Homo sapiens: one gene and its partners. The protein of the gene in region 1 purifies or fractionates together with the protein of each later gene. This does not show direct contact. Each region holds a gene or a part of one and is shown on either strand. Other genes may lie near its edges. The genes, in order: ZNF71, PUM3 and FBXO11.

The links.
Region 2: the proteins of ZNF71 (region 1) and PUM3 purify together in Homo sapiens (affinity purification with mass spectrometry; 2 studies listed by BioGRID and IntAct, with this or other methods). This does not show direct contact.
Region 3: the proteins of ZNF71 (region 1) and FBXO11 purify together in Homo sapiens (affinity purification with mass spectrometry; 2 studies listed by BioGRID and IntAct, with this or other methods). This does not show direct contact.

Annotation. Positions count from the first base shown.
Region 1 is NC_000019.10:56,619,151-56,622,901, forward strand, and holds part of ZNF71 (endothelial zinc finger protein induced by tumor necrosis factor alpha), read left to right. Parts: intron 1-2,117; coding exon 2,118-3,607; 3' UTR 3,608-3,751. UniProt on the Homo sapiens protein: May be involved in transcriptional regulation.
Region 2 is NC_000009.12:2,837,348-2,841,098, reverse strand, and holds part of PUM3 (pumilio homolog 3), read left to right. Parts: intron 1-2,581; 5' UTR 2,582-2,591; coding exon 2,592-2,673; intron 2,674-3,697; coding exon 3,698-3,751. UniProt on the Homo sapiens protein: Inhibits the poly(ADP-ribosyl)ation activity of PARP1 and the degradation of PARP1 by CASP3 following genotoxic stress. Binds to double-stranded RNA or DNA without sequence specificity. Involved in development of the eye and of primordial germ cells.
Region 3 is NC_000002.12:47,836,846-47,840,596, forward strand, and holds part of FBXO11 (F-box only protein 11), read right to left. Parts: intron 2,925-3,751; coding exon 2,797-2,924; intron 2,656-2,796; coding exon 2,574-2,655; intron 2,159-2,573; coding exon 2,014-2,158; intron 1-2,013. UniProt on the Homo sapiens protein: Substrate recognition component of a SCF (SKP1-CUL1-F-box protein) E3 ubiquitin-protein ligase complex which mediates the ubiquitination and subsequent proteasomal degradation of target proteins, such as DTL/CDT2, BCL6, SNAI1 and PRDM1/BLIMP1.

The DNA of each region.
Region 1 (3,751 bases):
GAAAAATATATAGAGAACATAAAATGTACCATTTTAACCACTTATAGGAGTACAGTTCAGTGGCCTTAAGGACATTGATGTTGTTGTGCAGCCATCACCGCCATCCATCCCCACAGCTCTTTTCATCTCCCGCAAATGAAACCCTATCCCCATTAAACACCAACTCCCACCCACTCCTCAGCCCCCGGCATCCTCTGTTCTACCGTCTGTCTCTGGGAATCCGACCTCCAGGTACCGCAGATGAGTGGAATCACATGGCATCCATCCTTTCATGTCTGATTTATTTTACTAAGTCTCTTTGATGGGCTTTGCTTTTTTAAAAAATGTTTTTCATGGGGAAAGTCTGAAATCCCAAGTTTCGTATCGGATGTGTTAGGCTTGGGCTATCCAGTTGAGATGCTGGGCTTTTTTGAACAGTTTGGACATAGCCCAGAAAGCAGGTCTGGGCTGAAGGTGTATGTTTGAGCAGCATCAGCCTGTGGATAACGTTTAGATCCAGACTCACTTTGTGTGGCTTTGAAGGTCCAGTGTGATTCAGGAGAGTGGTCTCAAACTCAGGTGGCCTCAGGAACTACCAGGTGGATCATTTATGTGGAGGAGGGGGACAGCTGCTGCCCCATGCAATGTCTTGTTGCCCATAAGAATGAGGCTCCACGTGGCCATATCTTCATGTTTTTTATGAGCTAGCAGCCACATGGACAGCAACTTTTAAATGCTGGGAATGAGTCCCCTGATGCAGAGTCTAGACTCCACCTAGGCTAGAAATCGAGGTTTAGAAATGAACAGGATACACGTGGAAGGTGATTGAAGCTGTGGGCACAGAGGTATTTAGCCAGGGAGGGTGGATGAGCAGAGAAAGAGGGTCTGAACCCAAGCTCCACGGAATGCCTGCCACCCAAGAACTAGGCAGCGTGTGACGTAGCAACAGAAGCAATTGTGAGACCCCAAGTCATGTGATTATTGTGGGCTCAAGTGAGCGGTCCTGTGTGTATGAACACTTAGTGCTGAGGCTGATGAGAGGGCTGGGGTGCGGGAGGGCTGGGGCCAGCCAGGGCAGGTGCGTGATGAGCTAGCGGGAGCCGGAGCCCCAGCCAGGGGAGAGGATCTTGCAGCCAGCAACCCTGGGGCAGCCATACCAGAGAAGTGGCAAAGGGGCAGGAGAAATGCCCGATTTTTCTCTCATTTCACTTCCAGTTTCCTGCCTTTGGCCAAACACACAGGAAGCCAGTGGGCAAAGTCAGCATCCTGAGCACAGGGCAGGTCAGAGAAGGGTGGAGAATAGAAAGTGGGTCGAAGGAGTAGAGAATAACCAACACATGCCATATAAATGCTAGCTATTTATTATTTCTTTATTCTTTTTCTTCTTTTTTCAATATTTATTTATTTATTTATTTTTTAAGAGACAGGGTCTCACCCTGTCACCCATGCTGGAGTGCAGTGACGTGATCATAGCTCACTGCAACCTCGAATTCCTGGGCTCAAGTGATCCTCCCACCTCAGCCTCTCAAGTAGCTGGGACAATAGGCATGTGCCACCATGCCTGGCTAATTTTTAAAAAAAAATTTAGTAGAGGCGGGGGTGGGGGGTCTCACTATGTTGCCCAGGCTGGTCTCAAGCAATCCTTGCCTCAGCCTCCCAAAGTGTTGGGATTACAGGCATGAGCCACTGTGCCTGGCCATCTTATTATTTCTGATAAAAACTGTTGCTTGAGGAGCACGACTGGTTGTGGATCTGCAGGATGAAGTGAGGAGGCCCTGCAAGTCAGTAGCCGGCTGCAGTCATTCCTACTCAGGTTTGCAGAGCCTGCCCTTTGCTCCCTGCAAGCCCAGCTCACTACTGCAGTTTCTCTCCAGGAGTGCCTGTCATCCCTCTTCTGAAGGGACATTTGCTCTCCCTGTTCACCTCCTGTGTTGACTCTGCTTCATAAACCACATTGGCCTCAGTTCCATGCCTCCCTCCTCCCTCCCTCTCTGATCCAAGGTTCTTCTTTGCTAACTCGCTCTGTGCCTTGGGCCTCATTGGGGTCGGTTTCATTTGCTCCTTCCTGCTGTGGAGCTTCCTCACTCCCAGCATCTTTAACTACATGTATTTGCATCTTCTGTTTTTGTTTTTTTCAGACTGGGAGACTAGACCTGAAATGAAAGAGTTGGATCCAAAGAATGACATTTCGGAAGACAAGCTCTCCGTTGTTGGGGAGGCCACGGGGGGACCCACGAGGAATGGTGCCAGGGGTCCTGGCTCAGAAGGAGTGTGGGAACCAGGCAGCTGGCCAGAGAGGCCGCGGGGAGATGCAGGTGCAGAGTGGGAGCCATTGGGAATTCCCCAGGGGAACAAACTCTTAGGGGGCTCAGTACCCGCATGTCATGAACTGAAGGCATTTGCCAACCAAGGCTGTGTCCTGGTCCCACCACGGCTGGACGACCCCACAGAAAAGGGGGCCTGTCCACCCGTAAGGCGTGGCAAGAACTTCTCCAGCACTTCAGACCTCAGTAAGCCCCCCATGCCCTGCGAGGAGAAGAAAACCTACGACTGCAGCGAGTGTGGCAAGGCCTTTAGCCGAAGCTCGTCCCTGATAAAGCACCAAAGGATCCACACGGGAGAAAAGCCGTTTGAGTGTGACACCTGTGGGAAGCACTTCATCGAGCGCTCGTCCCTCACCATCCACCAGCGGGTGCACACGGGCGAGAAGCCCTATGCCTGCGGGGACTGCGGCAAGGCCTTCAGCCAGCGCATGAACCTCACTGTGCACCAGCGCACGCACACGGGCGAGAAGCCGTATGTGTGCGACGTGTGTGGCAAGGCCTTCCGGAAGACTTCCTCTCTCACCCAGCACGAGCGGATCCACACGGGGGAGAAGCCCTACGCGTGCGGGGACTGCGGCAAGGCCTTCAGCCAGAACATGCACCTCATCGTGCACCAGCGCACGCACACCGGGGAGAAGCCGTACGTGTGCCCCGAGTGCGGGCGAGCCTTCAGCCAGAACATGCACCTGACCGAGCACCAGCGCACGCACACCGGGGAGAAGCCGTACGCCTGCAAGGAGTGCGGCAAGGCCTTCAACAAGAGCTCCTCGCTCACCCTGCACCAGAGGAACCACACCGGCGAGAAGCCCTACGTGTGCGGCGAGTGCGGCAAGGCCTTCAGCCAGAGCTCCTACCTCATCCAGCACCAGCGCTTCCACATCGGCGTGAAGCCGTTCGAGTGCAGCGAGTGCGGCAAGGCCTTCAGCAAGAACTCCTCGCTCACGCAGCACCAGCGCATCCACACCGGCGAGAAGCCCTACGAGTGCTACATCTGCAAGAAGCACTTCACGGGGCGCTCGTCCCTCATCGTGCACCAGATCGTGCACACCGGGGAGAAGCCCTACGTGTGCGGCGAGTGCGGCAAGGCCTTCAGCCAGAGCGCCTACCTCATCGAGCACCAGCGGATCCACACCGGCGAGAAGCCGTACAGGTGCGGCCAGTGCGGGAAGTCCTTCATCAAGAACTCCTCCCTCACTGTGCACCAGCGGATCCACACGGGCGAGAAGCCCTACCGATGCGGCGAGTGCGGGAAGACCTTCAGCCGCAACACGAACCTGACGCGCCACCTGCGGATTCACACCTGAGCGCCTCTGTGCAGGGCTCTCACTGGCGGTGCCCAGGACGGACGCCAGATGGCTGCGCGCTTTGTCAGCAGTGCTGTGAGAAGTTCTCCCCTGGGGTGGGGACTCGGGGTCAGGGGAGCTCAGGAATGTGGGGTTGTGGAGGGG
Region 2 (3,751 bases), on another chromosome or scaffold:
ATGAGCAAGAGGAGATGCCTGGAGGAAAATATGTGGTGCTTGATTAGATTTGGAAACATCAGTATGAGCTTCAAGTTATTGTAATAGATATAAAAATAAATATAGGTATGTGCATATGCATAAGTTAATATACATATATGTGTTTCCTGAATCTGTCTGCCGAAAGGACATAGAAACAGGGACACCTCAGTGACAACAAGTGCGCCTAGCACTCAGATCTTGGTTTTTAAATACCATTCTCAATGAAAGGAACCAGGATTCCTTGGAGAAGTGGCTGATTTCAGGGCTAGGTTAAGGAAAATACAGAAGGAACCTGGAGCCAGTGCCAGGAAATAAGGATGTGCTTTAAAAGCAAAACAAAACAGTTGGGCCGCGTCAAAAGGACACAGAAGCAACCTGAGAAACTTCCCCCTGGCTGGAGCTAGCATTATTTGAGCAACAAAATAACAGTGGTATTGGATTATAACCAAGGAATGAAATAAATATCTGAGACTATATGATACAAGTAAATAGATGGAAAAGATGGGACAAGTCTTCCCTACAGAAAAGTTGAGAATAACAAAGGCAAAAGTAATAAGAGAAATAGAAGATCACCATTTAAATGCAGTAATTGCTGCAGGCGATATCCACCGACAAATGCTAAAGTTAGCAGGTAAAACTTAGGAGGACATAGGATGTCTACATATTCTCCAAACATCTTGTCTAAAATGTTTATTAATTGCTGTGGTAGTTTAACGTATGCCTGGATTCTTTAGTACCCCTCCTTCTGGGAAGTGGAGCTTAATTTTCCTCTGACTTTGGGCTGGACTTGGTGGTTTGGATCTAATAAAGATGGAAAGGTTAAAGTGGCAACTTCACAGTGGAGAAACCTGGAAAACACTACTTTGACCAAGTGAACACGGTTAACATAAACAGTAATAAGTCATGTTAATGTCATGTACCTCTTGATAGAGTACTACCAGAAGAAAGCTTGACCTCTGGTAGTCTTCCAAAAAATGTGTAGCCTTAGCCTAATCATGAGAAAACATCAGGCAAACCCCAAATGAGGAATATTCTACAAAATACAAAGGAGACTTGATGGCCAGATTCAGTGTATCCTGGTACAGAAAGAGGATATTAGTGGAAAAACTGGTAAACTCCAACTCAACTCTGTAGCTTAGTTAACTGTATGTTAACATTAGGGGAAGCTGGGGAAAGGGTATATGTGAACTGTGTATCTTTTCAACTCTTTTGTAAAGCTAAAATTATTTCAATATAAAAATTAGAACAAACATACAGAGAAAACATGTAAATGAATGGATTCTTAGAAAACTACAGGTGTAGAAGAGCTGAGAGATGCAGGTATGGTTATGATGGCCATAGCCAAGTAATAATGTGACCCTTCAGTTCTAAATGCCCTGAGGAAGCTGAGTAATTCAGGGACTGTCCATTTTTCAAAATCATTAGAAAAGTCTAGATTAGAACAGCACTTTCCAGAGTACTCCTTGGAAGTCTGCTGTTCCCTTATGATGTTCCAGGAAAAAGTGGTTCAACTGGAGTTGGAAAATCCTGCATCCTTTAGCCTTTGCTTGAGAATTGATTGTATATATTAGCAAATTAAAGAATCTGAAAAGCCTTTTCTTACGGGCTGATTCTTGTCATTTAACTTACTGTTTCCCAAATATATTTTATCCCAGAACCCTTCTTTTCTCTTATGGTAATATCCTGAGAAATTAGTTCTTGAATGGGCAATTCTAATCTAGAAATATCTGGTGTTGTCTAGGGATCCCTAACATCTGTTGTTTACAGCCAGCTTTCAAATGAGTTGATCGTCCAACTTTGGAAAGTGGAGAAATGAGCCAAATGGCTTTTTCTCTTGATCTGTTCTGCTGCTTTCAGGGACCTTGGGTAGGTGAGGGGTTATAACTTGTTTATCCTGTGCACCATGGTGTCTCAGTAGCCTATAAAGCGCCTATTAGACAGATTCCTTTCAATGAAATATTAACTATTTCAACATCTTATTTTGGAGTTCACTGCCAATTGCTTGGCTGCGTCTAAAACAATCACAGATTAAACACTGGATGCTAATCTTTGTTTTAGCTGTGTTGGATTGCATAGGAATCTTTCAGATAATCCTTTATTTTCTTATATTAAATGCATGTAGTGGTACATGCAGCCTATTGTTTGTTCCTGGCTTTTTAGGCTCCAAGAAATCAAGCGATAATTTTGTCAGTTATTCATCCCCTAGTCTTCCCAGGTTACAAAATGCAAACTCTGATGCTTATTATACTTAGTGTCAATAGTGGTCTATTTTTAGCCAGTACTATTGTGGAAGTGAAGTGATGCCTCCAGAGATATCAAACACTGGCCAGGGTGTGTGTTGTTCTTAGTTTTTTTATTGATACCTTGTTCATTTTCAGTTTTAAAATTTGAGTCAGTGATTGCAAAATTGCTGGATTTAAGTACTTGTCCATTCTATATCTGGCTGATTTGTATTGTATTTGTAGACTGAAGGACTAAATGTGGCAATGACTATGAAACAGCTCTTATTTGATGAAGAGAACTGCAGTGATTGTTTTTGGTTTTGGTTTTGGTTTTCCAGAGTTGCTACGATGGAAGTTAAAGGGAAAAAGCAATTCACAGGAAAGAGTACAAAGACAGCACAAGAAAAAAACAGATTTCATAAAAATAGTGGTAAGATATGCTTCCCATGTGGGTGTTTGGCTGTTATAATTGGGGGATGGGAGGGCATGTAGTAAATTTCAATCTGTATTCATTGGCTAGGATTAGGATTAAAATAGTAGGAAGAAGTATGTGTTATTGTGTATGAGTTAACATGTTGCTCATGACATTTAGACACTTAAGAAATTGCAAGAATGATTGAGGAATGCCTTATTCATGAAAGACTCCTTATCTCAGTTGTTGCTGCTGTTGCCTCATTTTATTCACACTAGTTCACCATACATTTTATTTTAACATTTGATAAATTAGGACTGTTTAATACATACTGCTCATAAGCCAAATACGTTTAGGTTCAGAATTTATAATGGTGATGTCTTTATTATTCCATCAGGTGTCAGTATTGTAAAACAGAAAAGTCAAGGGACTATACAAATGATTAATGTTTCCTTAATGTTAGCCATTACTGTTTGCATCTCATTTGTTAGGTACTAATTTGTAAGCCTTCTTGATCAAAAGTTTTTGATAAATAATTTTAATATAGGCTTTAAAATTTTCTTAAAACTAGAAAATTTTAAAATTAACATTTTAGATGTCCTTATGATATACTTTCCAAATTTCAAGAATGTTCAAGAAGTCATTTCTTAAGACTTCTTTTGTTATTGAACTCTTGAAAATTCTGTGTAGACCATCATTAAAGCAGAATACAAAGGTATATAAATAATAGCTCTGCTATATGCTTAAAACTAGAGAAACATACCAAACTGACACCAGTGTTTATCTTTAGTGGTAGAATCATGGGTAGCTTTTATTTTACATTTCTCTACTCTCTAGGTGGTTTTATAATCAAGGAAAGAATTTTTTATTTTTGTTTTGATTGTTTAAATCCAGTTCTACTCAAAAGGCTATATGTTGCATATTTGAGAGTAAGACATGGTATTGGGATTAAAAAGTATAATTTTCTGTAATGGATATAATCCAATAGATAAAAGAGATTTGGGCCCAGAATCATTGAACTTATAATTATTATTGTCACTAGATTCTGGTTCTTCAAAGACATTTCCAACAAGGAAAGTTGCTAAAGAAGGTGGAC
Region 3 (3,751 bases), on another chromosome or scaffold:
TGATCATGGCTCATTGCAGCCTTAACCTCCCAGGTTCAAGTGATCCTCTTGTCTTATTTTTTGATTTTTTTTTGTAGAAATGAGGTCCCAGTATGTTGCCCAGGCTGGTCTCAAACTCCTGGGCTCAAGTAATCTGCCCACTTCAGCCTCCCAAAGTGCTGGGATTATAGGCGTGAGCCACTTCGCCTAGCCTAAAAAGATAATTTTCAGTAAAAATACTTTGAACTTAATTTGTCCTATATCTTCAGTCCATTTATATCCTATCAAGCACAATGAAATCTTCAAACTGGAGTAATGGCTAACTATTATCATTTCTGGTACAGTGAGCAATGCTGTTTTGTTCTGCTGCTCTTCATTCTCATTTCTCCTTTGTAATTTTTCTCTTAAATGTAAGGTGTGGGCCGGGCACAGTGGCCCATGCCTGTAATCCCAGCACTTTGGGAGGCCCAGGCAGGAGGATCACCTGAGGTCAGGAGTTCAAGACCAGCCTAGCCAACATGGTGAAACCCTGTCTCTACTAAAAATACAAAAAATAGCTGGGCATGGTGGGAGGTGCCTGTAATCCCAGCTACTCAGGAGGCTGAGGCAGGAGAATTGCTTGAACCCGGGAGGCAGAGGTTGCAGTGAGTCAAGATTGTGCCACTGCACTCTAGCCTGGGCAACAAGAACGAAACTCCGTCAAAAACAACAACAAAAACATATATATATATGGTGCACCTTTTGTGCATCATAAAAGTAATACATATAACCGTTGTAAAACAAAGAAGTGTAAAGAACTATAGTTTCAATATATTAACTATTAACAGTCTGCCATATTTGCTTCCACTCATTTTATCTACAGATCATTTATTATAGTTGTGATTATATAGCATATACAATTTTGTACTCTGTTCTTTTCTTTAAAAAACAGGGTCTCCGTCTGCCGCCCAGGCTGCAGTGCAGTGGCACGATCACGGCTTTCTGCAGCCTTGACTTCCTGGGCTCAAATGATCCTCCTGCCTCAGCCTCCGGAGTAGCTGGGACCACAGGCAGGAGCCACCACACCTGGCCTCTTTTCACTTTTTATAACAGCATTTTTTTCATCTTATTAAAAACCTGGGCTGGGTGCAATGGCTCATGCCTATAATCCCAGCACTTTGGGCGGCCGAGGTAGAAGGATCACTTGACCCCAGGAGTTCAAGATCAGACTGAGTAACAGAGTGAGACCCTTTGTCTCAAAAAAAAAAAAAAAAAAAAAATTAGCTGGGCATGGTGACACATGCCTGTGGTGCCAGCTACTCAGGAGGCTGAGGTGGGAGAATGGCTTGAGCCCAGAGGGTTGAGGCTGCAGTGAGCTAGGAGCGTGACACTGCACTCCAGCCTGGGTGACAGAGCAAGACCCTGTCTCTCAAAAAACAAATGAAAATCTCTTTGTAAAAATTACTATTAGTGGTTATATCACAACTCTCCAAGTACACATTACACAGTTTATGTAGTTCATTCCCTTAATTCTGGATATTTAGATTATTTATAATTTTTCTCATTATTAACTAGGCTGTTACGAAAAATCTGTACATAAAGCAAAAAAAACTTTTCAGAAGTAGAATTACTGGGTCAAAGGGCATGACCCAGTAATTACTGGGTCAAAGGGCATGAATTATTTAAAGATTCATGAATACAACTGTTTTCCAAAAGTGATATATAAAACCTACATTCTAATCTATCAGATTTAAAATTCATTAGCTATTTTAAATTACACTGTTATGTTTCTAAAAAGCTACTAAAAGAAAAACATTTCCCATAATCAATCAGTTGCTATTAACTGATAAACAGCAGATAAAAGACTTCATTTACTGATTTATAAATACCACCTGGACTGACAGCCCCCATTTGTAACTTGGAATTGATAAGCATTTTAATTTTGTTCCAACTAATTGTAACTACCAACTCACCGCACCGACTTTCCTACCATGTTTAGCATTTTGGGCAACAAATAACATATCTCAAGTTAATAAGGAATAGGTTTTTACTTACCACAAAATTGGATCATTAGCAAGTTCACTGAAGCGTTTACATACACAAGCTGCTCTACAAAGATCCTGTTCCAGCAAGTAAGAGAAGATTTTTAGAACCACTTCATCTGGCAGTTTCTCCTGAAGATACTGTTCAGCAGGTGCTGCTATAAAGAGATTAACATATAAACTATCATTCGAGCAATAACTTTCTCATTATTTAAAGAACACAGTTTTCATTTTATCTAATGAATAGCTTTTTTTTTTTGGATAATGGTCATTTTATAAGCATGTGGGTTTCATGGGTAACACATATTTATCTCTATCCTGAACTAACAAAAGTACTCCTTCTTTTAGGTATTATGTGCCATCTCAGAAATGGTTAAAATAAATACATAAAAAGCATTTTTATACAACAATAAAAGTCAGAGGGAGAGGTCAGGGTTCTAAAGTTTATTCTGTAATAATCACTTTCTGAATCCCAAAGGTAATACTCGAATACACTTAATTTTCATTTTTTGGTATCAAGCAAAATTAAAAAAAATTATTTTACCCTATTTGTTACTTTCCCACAGGAAATACCTGATAGATCTTGTGATTTTCCAGACACTCTTGCACGTTTTGCACGATGACCAAAGTTTTCTGTAGTTGAAGTTGAGGCGCCCTTCAAAAACAAAACAGAAACTAGTAAAGCAAATATTCTTATCATCCATAATCATTACTTCTAAAAAAGGATGACATTCCCTTTTTTGTTTCTTGAAAATTCTTTCATTACAAAAAGAAAAGCAACTACAGTTAAAGTTACCTCCATACTGTTCTTTGTGGGACACGCTGTTCTTTTCGGCAAAAGAGTTTTTCTACGAAGTTGGTATGGACTATTTTGTGCACCAGGACCTGATTCTTCTGCAACCATATCTGCAGGCACATCATCATCTGTTATAAACAAAAGCAATAAGAAAAATTATACCCTTTTTAAAAAAAGTTCTATGGATACAGAAAACTTTCTTAAAACTTCAAATTCGGGAGGGAGCAGATGTAAGTTTTATATGAAATTCCAACCAACTGGATAGCTATATGAAAGAAATGTTAGATTTCTATAAAATGTGGAAGATTTTTTTTTTTTTTGAGACAGAGTCTCGCTCTGTCGCCCAGGCTGGAGTGCAGTGGCGCAATCTCGGCTCACTGCAAGCTCCGCCTCCTGGGTTCACGCCTTTCTCCTGCCTCAGCCTCCCGAGTAGCTGGGACTACAGGCGCCCGCCACCACGCCCAGCTAATTTTTTGTATTTTTAGTAAAGATGGGGTTTCATCGTGGTAGCCAGGATGGTCTTGATCTCCTGACCTCGTGATCCACTCACCTCGGCCTCCCAAAGTGCTGGGATTACAGGCGTGAGCCACCACGCCCAGCCGTGGAAGACTTTTTTTTAAAAAAAGGTGAGGAGGATATCCACTTGCTGAGAGGAGTGGGAAGGGAACTGGTACTACATGGTTAGAGACCATATATGGTGAAGGCAGCTTGGCAAGGAGTGTGTCTATGAAGAGGAACGGCTCAATATAGTGCATGAGATACCAGGTAGGTTAAAAAGGGTGTCAGAGGGTAGTCTGGTGTATGAACATCTTTTTTTTTTTTTTTTGGAGATAGGGTCTCATTCTGTCACCCAGGCTGGAGTGCAGTGGCCCGATCACAGCTCACTGCAGCCTCAACCTCTTGGCCTCAAGCAATCCTCCTGCCTCAGTATCCCAAGCAGCTGGGGCTACAGGCA